Homo sapiens: one gene and its partners. The protein of the gene in region 1 purifies or fractionates together with the protein of each later gene. This does not show direct contact. Each region holds a gene or a part of one and is shown on either strand. Other genes may lie near its edges.

The links.
Region 2: the proteins of FYTTD1 (region 1) and PALM purify together in Homo sapiens (affinity purification with mass spectrometry; 3 studies listed by BioGRID and IntAct, with this or other methods). This does not show direct contact.
Region 3: the proteins of FYTTD1 (region 1) and UBA6 purify together in Homo sapiens (affinity purification with mass spectrometry; 3 studies listed by BioGRID and IntAct, with this or other methods). This does not show direct contact.

What each region holds. Positions count from the first base shown.
Region 1 is NC_000003.12:197,752,829-197,756,578, reverse strand, and holds part of FYTTD1 (UAP56-interacting factor), read right to left. Parts: intron 910-3,750; exon of another isoform or gene 770-909; coding exon of another isoform or gene 745-769; intron 154-744; coding exon 22-153; intron 1-21. UniProt on the Homo sapiens protein: Required for mRNA export from the nucleus to the cytoplasm. Acts as an adapter that uses the DDX39B/UAP56-NFX1 pathway to ensure efficient mRNA export and delivering to the nuclear pore.
Region 2 is NC_000019.10:706,964-710,713, forward strand, and holds the start of PALM (paralemmin-1), read left to right. Parts: upstream 1-1,971; 5' UTR 1,972-2,183; coding exon 2,184-2,188; intron 2,189-3,750. UniProt on the Homo sapiens protein: Involved in plasma membrane dynamics and cell process formation. Isoform 1 and isoform 2 are necessary for axonal and dendritic filopodia induction, for dendritic spine maturation and synapse formation in a palmitoylation-dependent manner.
Region 3 is NC_000004.12:67,624,429-67,628,178, forward strand, and holds part of UBA6 (ubiquitin-like modifier-activating enzyme 6), read right to left. Parts: intron 2,050-3,750; coding exon 1,932-2,049; intron 760-1,931; coding exon 566-759; intron 1-565. UniProt on the Homo sapiens protein: Activates ubiquitin by first adenylating its C-terminal glycine residue with ATP, and thereafter linking this residue to the side chain of a cysteine residue in E1, yielding a ubiquitin-E1 thioester and free AMP.

The DNA of each region.
Region 1 (3,750 bases):
AAGCTTACTTTCAAAACTTACCAGAATTCTGTTGGATTCCCCATCGCACTCTCATCCTGAATTGCTGGGCACCACTTTGCTGGAGGAGTCTTCTATTTAGTCTTGGAAAATTCTGCTTCTTCCCTTCCTTTCGATTCAACTTGATGATATCATCTATGATAGAGGAAATGTCAATTATTTTCATTTTAACTTAACTCAATTACTCAGTTTCGTTTTCTAGCTGATAGATGTCCTACGTTCCTAACTTCTTTTCTACTTTGAAAGCACTTCCATAAGAGGATAATAACAAGAATCAGCCATTTTACAATAGCCCAAAGCAGATCTACCAATTAATGAAGAGTGCTATTGGCCATAGTATTTCTTTACCTGATGAATCAAGCAGAAGCCTGTTTACAAGTTATTCCTACTTACTTCCCATAATCACAGAAGCCTCCAATTTCCTACTTACTTCCCATAATCACAGAAGCCTCTAATTTCCTACCTACTTCCCGTAATCACAGAAGCCTCCAATTTCCTACCTACTTCCCATAATCACAGAAGCCTCCATTTTCCTACCTACTTCCCATAATCACAGAAGCCTCCATTTTCCTACCTACTTCCCATAATCACAGAAGCCTCCATTTTCCTACCTACTTCCCATAATCACAGAAGCCTCCATTTTCCTACCTACTTCCCATAATCGCAGAAGCGTCCATTTTCCTACTTACTTCCCAAAAACACAGAAGCCTCCATTTTCCTACTTACTTCCCATAATCACAGAAGGCTCCATTTTTTAAAGATGACCCCCTTCCGGCCAGGCATGGTGACTCACACCTATAATCCCAGCACTTTGGGAGGCTGAGGTGGGCGGATCATTTGAGGTCAGGAGTTCGGGACTGGCCTGACCAACATGGTGAAATCCCGTCTCTACTAAAAATACAAATAAATAAATAAATAAATAAATAAATAAATAAATAAATAAATAAATTAGCCGGGTATGGCGGTGCATGCCTGTAATCCCAGCTACTCGGGAGGCTGAGGCAGAAGAATTGGTTGAACTCGGGAGGCAGAGGTTGCAGTGAGCCAAGATCGCACCACTGCACTCCAGCCTGGGTGACAGAGCGAGACTCCATAAAAAAAAAGAAAAAGTAAAAAAAGATGACCACCTTCCAATATATAGGTAATCAAAAATTAAACCATTCAACTAAAATACTAAATGTTGAAATTCAGCAAATATTTACTGAGCATATACTACATGCAACAAATATATGTGTCAGGTTGTGCTGTAACTGAAACAAAAGTAAAATACGGTCCCTTTTCTAAATAAGTTTAAAAGTACTGATGGAAACAGACATGCAAATAGCAAATACAAAATTAAACAAGTGCCATAATAAAGGTATAGTACAAAAAATACTAATGACTCACCTCTAGCAAAGTACTTCAAGTTACCTTATTTTTCTTTCTACACTGATCTAAGCCTCATTACTTCCAAACATACTTCCAAACTGCCCCAAGGTAATTCACAAACAAAAATACACAACAGAACAAGGTGAAGACCAGAAAACTAAATGTACTCCAGATTCCCATTTATATCTGTTAAAAGAGGTTACTAGAAGCCAAAAATACTCATTTAAGAAATATCCAGCTGGGCACATGCCTGTAACCTCAGCACTTTTAGAGGTGAGATGGGAGAATGCTTCAGCCCAAGAGTTCGAGACCAACCTGGGCAACACAGCAAAACCTCATCTCCACAAATAATTTTTAAAAATTAGCCAGGCATGGTGGTGCGTGCCCGTGGTCCCAGCTACCCAGGAGGCTGAGGTGGGAGAATTCCTTGAGCTCAAGTGGTCAAGGCTGCAGTGAGCCACAATCACGCCACTGCACTCCAGCCTAGGCAACAGAGCAAGACTGTCTTTCAAAAAAAAAAAAAAAGAAAGAAAAAAAAAAACCCACAAACATTTCCTCCATAGTCCTAATTCCAGTATTATTTCATAATTGAGAAAGCAAATAAAACAAAGAAATTGCATACAGTCAACAAATTCTTAATAAAACTCTATGAAACTAATTAAACTCAATTTTTTTGTCACTATAATTAGTCTTTCCAGAAGTCAGAGAAGGAAATATAACTTGAAGGTCCTTTGTAATATATTACTGTTCTACCTAACCAATCTCTAATCTTTAAGACTCTTAATTACACTCAAATATTCACACAAAATATCTCAAATCTCCCCAAAATATTTAGTTGTCTTCTTGAAATTAATGTCCAACTACGAAAAAGTTCATCAAAGTTAAGGGCACTCAAAAACTTTTGTAAAAAATTAAAAGGTCAACATCAGATATATAAACATGTATCTCAATAAGCATAAAGGGAATACCAAGGAAGACACTATTTATGAGACACCACTTTCCTTTCACAAAGTGCTACTTACTCTTCATCAAAAGTCTAAAATCTCAAGCCTTGAGAGTAAACCAAAAAAATGAATTTTGTCTGGGGAGCATTAAAAAAAAGAGGCAAAGTACAATTCTGACTAACAAAGTTCATCTTAAAATATAGCATATAGGCCGGGTGCGGTAGCTCACGCCTGTAATCCCAGCACTTTGGGAGGCCGAAGTGGGCGGATCATGAGGTCAGGAGATCGAGACCATCCTGGCTAATATGGTGAAACCCTGTGTCTACTAAAAAATACAAAAAATTAGCCGGGTGTGGCGGTGGGCGCCTGTAGTCCCAGCTACTTGGGAGGCTGAGGCAGGAGAATGTTGTGAACCTGGGAAGCCGAGATCGTGCCACTGCACTCCAGCCTGGGCGACAGAGCAAGACTCCGTCTCAAAATAAATAAATAAATAAAATAAAATACAGCATATAAAGTCTAAATATAACTAAAAATCAGAAGTAGCAGAGCATATTAAATATAAAATTACATTTCACATTTCAACATTTTACTACCTATATCTTCAAATAAGTCAAATGAGCTACCATGGCCGAGAGGATTCTTTCAATCTAAAAAAAGAAAACGGCTTTCTCCTGCCCAATGAATAGATACACAGGTATCAGAATTAAAAAAAAAAAAAAATTCCTTACAATGAGCTATTTTAAGTTTCTTCCATAGCACTAGAGGAATATACATGGTAATAGTAATAGCAGCAGTAGCAGCAGTGGTGGTGGTAAGTACTACAGCACAGGCACCAGCAATGTTAGTACCAACAGTTCTGACATGTATTCACTTAATTCACAACAATCCTATGAAATAAGTATCACCATAACACCGATTTTCAAATTAAGGAATTGAACCATGAGGCCAGCTATTGGTAAACTTGGTACTCTATGTGAAATTCATATACACCTGGCAAAGCCATGATTTAAAACAAAAAAACCTCTGCAAACCTGGTAAGATTAAACATTCACAAAGCATAGTAACTGCCTAGGATAGATGATGTCTAGGATAGAAATGGGATGATCTCTTCATCCCATTTCTGTAAAATTCTCACCAAAAGAAAGGCAATAGAGGGACTGCTGTATGTTCCTGGGGGAAAGAAAGATATCAAGCTGTTTCAGCTCTCCACAGCACTTCATTGCTACCTCCAAGAGAACTACCCCTCAGTTTTCTTCACTTGAACGTACTAATCATCAAACAAAACACATACAAAAAAGAAAACAGAAAACCTAGAAACGTAAGAAATCTAGGTGTAAAACAACTTGAGGCTCTAGAATCAGACTGAAATCCTGGCACCACCACTTAACTACCTTGTATGACTTCGAGCAAGTTACTTAAT
Region 2 (3,750 bases), on another chromosome or scaffold:
GAGCCGAGATCGCGCCATTGCACTCCAGCCTGGGCAACAAGAGCGAAACTCCGTCCACCCCAGCCAAAAAAAGAAGTGGTTTTGCCATGTTGGCCAGGCTGGTCTCTAACTTTTGACCTCATGATCCACCAGCCTCAGCCTCCCAAAGTGCTGGGATTACAGGCGTGAGCCACCGCGCCCGGCCTGGTCTCAAACTTTTGACCTCGTGATCCACCAGCCTCAGCCTCCCAAAGTGCTGGGATTATAGGCGTGAGCCACGGCGCCTGGCCGCAAAAATGGAACTTCTGCATCACAGGTGACTAACGGTGCCAGGCACACAGTAGGTGTTCAATAAATCACTTTGGACTAAAAGAACACAGAGGCCAAGGGGAAGTGAAGAAACGACTCACAGGTCAGTTTTATTGGGTGCCTAGTGCAGGGGTCAGTACACTACGGCCCTCGGATCAGCTCTGGCCCTCTGCCTGTTTTTGTAAATAAAGTTTTATTGGGTGCCTAGTGCAGGGGTCAGTACACTACGGCCCTGGGATAAGCTCTGGCCCACTGCCTGTTTTTGTAAATAAAGTTTTATGGGCACAGAGCCATGCCCATGGTTTTACATATTGTCTCTGGCTACTTTCACTCTGCGATGGCAGAGCAGAGTCATTGCCGCAGAGACTGTGGCCTGCAATGCTGAAAATATTTACTCTCTGGCCCTTTACAGAAAAAGTTTGCCAAACCCTGAGCTAGTGTGTGCTGGGCCCTGTGCCAAGCCCTTTGTGTGTGCTCACTCAGTTAACCCTCCCACAGCCTTAAGGGTGGGGGCAGGGGGGTGGGGGGGAATAAGGCTCCGAGAGGTTGAGAAACAGACCCAGGGTCACACAGCTTGGAGATGGGTGAGCTGGGAATCAGACAGACCCGGGACCCCTGATATTCTTTAGGATCTTAGCTTTGTTAACCTTTGCTAATTTATCTTATTGTCTTAAATGCTAAAATGAATACACATTCATTGTAAAAAGGGAGGAATAAAGAAAAGGTGTTGACGGCCTTCTTCAGCCTGGGGTACATCCTGCCGTATCTTTCTCCACAGCTCATCCGGGGCTACTTTCCTTTAAATCTACAGCCATTCAGCAAACATCGGCAGAGGAGAACCGTTTTATAAGAAAACTAAGAAGTTTGGAAGAATCTTTCCTTCCTGCCCACCCTGGACCCCCATGAGTAGGTGTGCTGGGGCTGGTCTGCAGTGTTCTCACGGGAAACCAGGAAGCTGGGCCCAAGGCCTACATGTTGGGGAAGACAGGTCCTGCCTGTCTCCTGCTGTGGCTCCCCAGTGCTCTGAGGACAAAGCCTGAGCTCTCCCTGATTCTCCACCGTCCCTCTCACTCACTCTGGTCGTCTGGTCGCTGGGCCTTTAGTGAGTGTGCCATGGGGGCCCTGGGGCCGATTAAATTCCAGCCCCGGGGACCAGGCTCAGCTCCCAGCCAGGGCACAGACAGATCAGCACCTGCGGTTGTCTCCACCCCAACCCCCGGCCTTTGCAGGCACAGCGCCCTCCACCAGATACTCCGGCAAAGGAGGCCTGGGGACCCTGCGAGCGGGGCCGGGGGTGCAGGGAGCTGTCAGCTCCTCGCAGCGGCCTCCCCAGGACCCCCCTATCCCCTCGCTCGCCCTGAAATGTGTGTCCCTCTCGGCGTCTGGGCTCTCGAGAAAGGCCTTTGCTTGTCTGACTTCGCGAGGGTCCCGGCTCTGGCCCAGGAGCTGGGGAGGGGCGGGACTTGGTGACAGCCGGGTCCCAGCACCGCGCCCAGACCTAGGCCCTTCTCAGGGGTGCCCCGGGGCGGGGCGCGCGGGGCGGGGGGCGGCGGCGGCGCAGCCGGCAGGAGGCGCAGCGCCCGCTCGCAGCGCGGGGAGGTGGGAGGGGAGCGGGGCGGGGAGCGGGGCGGGCGGGAGGGAGAGGGGAGCGCGCCGGAGACGCGCGCGCCCAGCCCACCCCCCGCGCCCGCCGCCGCCCGGACAATAAACAGCAGCTTTGCGCGGGGCGATGCCCGAGCCGGTGCCGCCGCCCCCGCGCCGCGCAGCCCCGGCCGCCAGGCCTTAGCCCGCCCCGGCCCCCGCCAGGCCGCGTCCCCCTCCCCTCCCCTCCCCCGCGCGCCACCCGCGCCCGCCCCCGCCCGGCACCGCGGACCCACCCGGACCTCGGCGGGGAGATGGAGTGAGTAGGCGCGCTCGGGCCGCGGGGCTGGGGGCCCGGAGCTCCGGGAGCCGGGGAGGGGGGAGGCCCCCTCTCTCGCGCCCCATTGGGGGCGTCGCTGCCCCCGCGAGGAGCAGGAGGCGGCGCGGGGCTGCTGGGGCCGCAGCGCAGCCGGGAAGAGACTCGGGCTGGGCCGCGCCTGCCGGGAGGCCTCCCCGCTCCCGGACCCCGGCTGCCCACCCACCGGCGCGTGGGGACCCGGGCAGCGGCGGCTCGGGCCAGTCCAGGACGCGGGGAGGGGGAGGCTCGCGTCTCCGCCCGCGCCCCGCCCGCGTCTCCAGGGCGAGCCTCGGCTCTCGGCCACCTGTGGGTGGCCCCGGGGAGATGGAGCGACCCCTCCCCAGATTGCACCGGTCCGGCCTCGCGCTCACGCACCCTTCCCCCGCCCCAGTCTGAGCGCACGGCTCCTGGCGCCCTGGACGCGCGCGCGGGCCGGTGCCCCCCACCCCCGCCCTTCCCAAGGGCCTCCAGGGGTGTCCTGAGCCCCCCGCCACTGCGCAGGTCCCGAGTTACCGCTGGAGGGAGAGGGGCTGCCCTCGGCTTCCCGGGTCTCTGGGGTGTGTGAGAAGGGAGAGGAACCGGCGTTTTCCAGCGGGGCGCCTGGGTGGGATACCCTCTCGGGGAAGTGTCTCGGAGCTGGGGCTCCACTGGTGTAGCTACAGGAGTGGGCTGGCCCTGGGCTGGGATCCCTGGACCCCCGCATGGCTGCGCCTGTGTGTGTGGGGGGGGGGTGGCCAGTGGAGGCACCGAGCGAGGGCGCGTGGTCATTTCGGACACCGGTCCCCTCCTCCCGGTGCTCGGGTGCCCCTCTGCCCCTCACTCCCACAGGTGGGCACTGCACGGGCAGGGGTCAGGAGGCTCCTCCTGGGGTCACCCACCTGCCCACTTCAGGACAGGGGAGCCAGCTGCCCTGCTGAGGCCCGGGTCCCCACCCCAGCCCGAGGACCGAAGACCGGATCTGGAGGCCGCCTGTGGCCCCCTGCCCTTCCCACTGGGCGTGTTTTCTAAGCCGCCAACTTTCCCCGGGGATTCACCCGTGACCCGCCACGCCCGCGGCTGGGTGGGGGCCGCTGCCTCCCTCCCTCCCTGGGAAAGCGAGACACCCAGTGTCCTCTGCTTTTGAAAACCCAGACAAAGGCCTGACCCCTCTCCCCGTCACCCCGCCCCGGGAGCTCAGCCAGGGGCTCAGGGGAGCCAGGGCCCAGACTTGCCTGCTCCACACCCCCACCCCCCAGCCTTGTTTATCTGCCCTGCTCGCCAGGCCCCGGAGGAGCCTCTGGGCCTCTGACAGCCAGGCCTGGGCAGGGTGTGGCTGTGGGGAGGGGGCTGCCTAGGAGGACGACGGAGATCTCCCTCCCAGAGGAGGGGTGTCAGCGAACACTCCGGGTCGGGCCCATTGTTTCCTTCCTGCCACCCCTTCCTTTCCCACGGGGGATACTGAGGCCCAGAGAGGAGCTGCTGCCCCCCCCCCACCCCCCCTCCATCACACAGCACCTGGGGCCGGGGGGCCTCGGTGCCTCCTG
Region 3 (3,750 bases), on another chromosome or scaffold:
TACTTTCAAACTTTCAACCTACTCTATACATGTTAACAGTTATTTAAAAAAATATTAATTCAACCATACAGTCTCCCTATTTTGAAAGCACATGCTGTAACTCAAAAAATAACAACAGTCTAAAATCACTTAATACAGGGGTAAATAACTACATAGCTTCATAGATAATTACATAGAGTAATGATGTAATATGGTATAATAACTAGGGCCGCACTTAAAGATTCTGAATCATTATGAATAAAGATTAGGGAAGTTCATTTTATTCAAGAAAAACAGAGTACCTGCTTTGTATGAATGACGTAAAGATCAGTGAAAAGATTATTGCCTATAAGAAAAATCATAATCTATCTTGAGCTTATTTTTTATTTTAAAAATGTATATTTATGTAATACTTCACAATACAGATGACTGCATTTTCAGAAAATATTTTGAAATTTTAAATTATGAGATCCAATATTTATCCTTCCCTCTCTAACATCTCTGAGTGACTGGGTTGGTATGACGGGGAAGTCAGGGAAGAGGCAATGAAAAAGGAGCATTTTTATTCAAGGAATAATAAACTTACCAAGCCAGAAACTGTAGCAGTGGTTGTTGCTATAGCAGGTATAATTTTACCAGCTATGCGCTTTGTTTTGAAACGGTCAGCTGGTTCAATGCTGTACATTTTGGCACGAAGATTTGATGCAGCTGTGATGAAATCTATGTGTCCATTATGATCATCATCTTTTTCAAATGAAAGCACTGCCATCTGAAGGTCACCTGATTATACCAACCAGATAAACAAAGTTCCACAGCAAGCAGTAAAGATTTTACTAGGTAAAAAGCAATGTGAATTTACTAACTTTCAAAGATTCCTTTTTATATTTTTTAATGACTGAGAAACATAAGAAAAATTCAGGCAACTAATGTTATTGAAGGCCACAAAAACAGCTTTTCCCATGATTAAAGAGAGCCAATTTTTTTTAATTAAAAAAAAAAAAACGATGGTTTTAATGCCACTAAACTAGAGACGTTTCTGTATTTAAAAAAACTTTTTAATAAATAGCAAAATAAGAAAGTTGTGTACTGCACATCTCCTATCAAGTGGTTTACAATAAAAAAGCCAACATTAGGTATAGTTCAAAAATTTATTCCATAAATCCGACTCTGAAACATTTTCCCTCTGGTAACTAAGAACAGGGTCAGTTGGTCAAATTAAAATAAGTAATTTCTGAAATCTTTGTAGATCAGTGGTTCCCAAGATCCTTCTAATTATTGTTATTCTGGGTTATTTTTCCTGAAATTCTACTGGTCCATGCTTAAAATCTCAAAAGTTTGGAAACCACTGATTTATAAAACTAAAAGACGGTGAGCAGGTCAAAACAGATGAGTGTATGGCTGCTTTTAAGGAATTAAAAATTCAGTTTTCCTGTATTTTTATATTTAAGTCCATCTAGCAAGGAAGTATATATAGGTCATTCTGTATTCCCTGTCAGTAATTATGAACCTAATTACTAAAGACTAAGAACCTAAGAATATTTCTGTTTATAGTTCTTTATCCTAAAGTGATTTAAATGGGTCTGTCCAAAGATTAGTTTCCACAAGGACCCCATTAAACTGAATTTTTAATTCCTTAAAAACAGAGCTTTTCATTCATGGTTTTAGACCTGCTCACCATCTAAAGAACTAAAACAATCAGAAAAACAACAACAATGCAGTTAATGTGATTTGGAGAATTAGACTTCAATCTTTGAGAGTAGGGCAATAGTGGGGAAGATGATGAATTTAGTCACAGTTAAAGATGAACACTGACTTTAATATGATCATGAAATCAATCAATATTGTCATCATTATTATTGTTGTGATTAAATTCCACAAATTCTTAGGTGTAGAGCTTAGTGAAAATAAAAACTCATCCAGTTCAAAACATTTTTATAAAGATTTTCCCTTACTTTTGGTGGCTTCATTAGATAAAATAGCCTTTTCTAGTTGGAAAATTGCATTCCTCTCATCTTCACTGCTAATAGGAACATGGTCTGGTTTCCTTGCAGTTTCATCTGTTTGAACAACCTTTGAATATATGAATATATTTTTATTAATGTTATCATTTCCTGCATCTGTTTGGTTACCATTTAACTGTTTTATCAAATTACAAAGAGAAAATATTTTCTCTATATATTTTGATCAGATTATTAATCATTGGTCCAATGTATTTTATACGTTCCTTTAGAAGGTATTATTATGTTATTCATGTATGTATTTTATTATCTATCTTCTCGCACAGGCATGTAAGCTCTATAACAACAGGGATCTTTATGTATCTTGTTCACTGACAGAACTCCAATATATCTAATTTTTAATACCCACAATGATACAGTGGGCATAAAAAATATTTACTGAGTAGCTCATACAATCTAAGTCCATACTGATCTTTTTAAAAATTCCACACTAGAATAAAATTAGTATTAATCAACACTTTGTGATTCTGACAAATCTACTTTAAACGCATGTTGCTTTGCTCTAACTAGTACAGAGCTGCTTCACATCAAGGAAACTAAAGCAATCCATAAGATATATAATATGGCCATCCTTTAAATATTCACTGACTGCTGTTAAGTTTTTTCCTTAAGAATATGCCTTCTTTCATATAGAAAGTTTGGTAGGATTAAGGGAGTACATACCACAAGTAATTTAACCTTAAGAAATTACTTATTAGATATTCCCTGAGGGCACGGAAATTAATATTCTCAAACCAAGAAATTAGCTTCATTATCATGAAGTAATATTTATTTAAAAATACACTCAAATCATCGTTTTACAAATTAAACATTATTACAAAAAATTAAGAAATATTAAGGAGTCCAGGAAGGAGAAACTTTTGTTTGTCTGAATGGCTAGTTGATATTTTTGGCTGTGACATCTGTAACCAGCAGTACCATACCTGAAACTTCGGTGTGAGCTCCTTTAGGGAGTTGTGAAAAAGCCCACAGTTCATGTTAAAACTGTAGTTAAATTGCTCAGGAGAATTTATTACCCTCAGACTTTAACACAGATAGAAGCAATGCAAGCCAGAAAACATACCGAAGCAAGAGCAATAACGGAAAGTAAAGTTAAAGCATTTTTCCTTGGCTTCTCTCTAGTTTTGCCCTTGGAAACATGGGCTGGGAACCTTCTTTGGGATTTCTGTTTATCCTCACCCTATTTTTATTCTTTATAGGCTATAAGTCATAAACATTGTGTTCTGCAAATCCATCTACCTGGGCAAAATCAACTGCCCTACAAGTCTTTTTTTTTTTTCCTAAAATAAAAACGCAGAACGAAAGACTGCACACGTCACTTCTTTCTTGAATTTTGCAGGGAGGTGGTCATTACTCCACCTTTTCTGGTATAGCTAAATTTTGTGGATGATTTTTAGAGAACATACAAGAAAGGCATATACTGAACATGTAAAAAAGAAAAAAAAGTTTTCAAACTTTTTTATTTACATTGCCTAAATTTCATGTTCCATCTTTACCAATACTCCCTATTGCTTTTTTTTTTTTTTTTCAATGTATTTGCCTGGCAAAATCCCAACCCTAGTTATATCCAATTTTCCATCCATTATACAGTATAATACCACCCAAGCAGCTAAATTCTGGCTGGAGAAAAGATCATTACCCTTTCTCCAGCCACATTTAGTAGGATACATTAAGCAGATTAACATTAAGTGGATCTTCAGTATTGTCTTGCGTTTTACTACATCTTTTAATTAAGTGACTCTTCCACTTCACT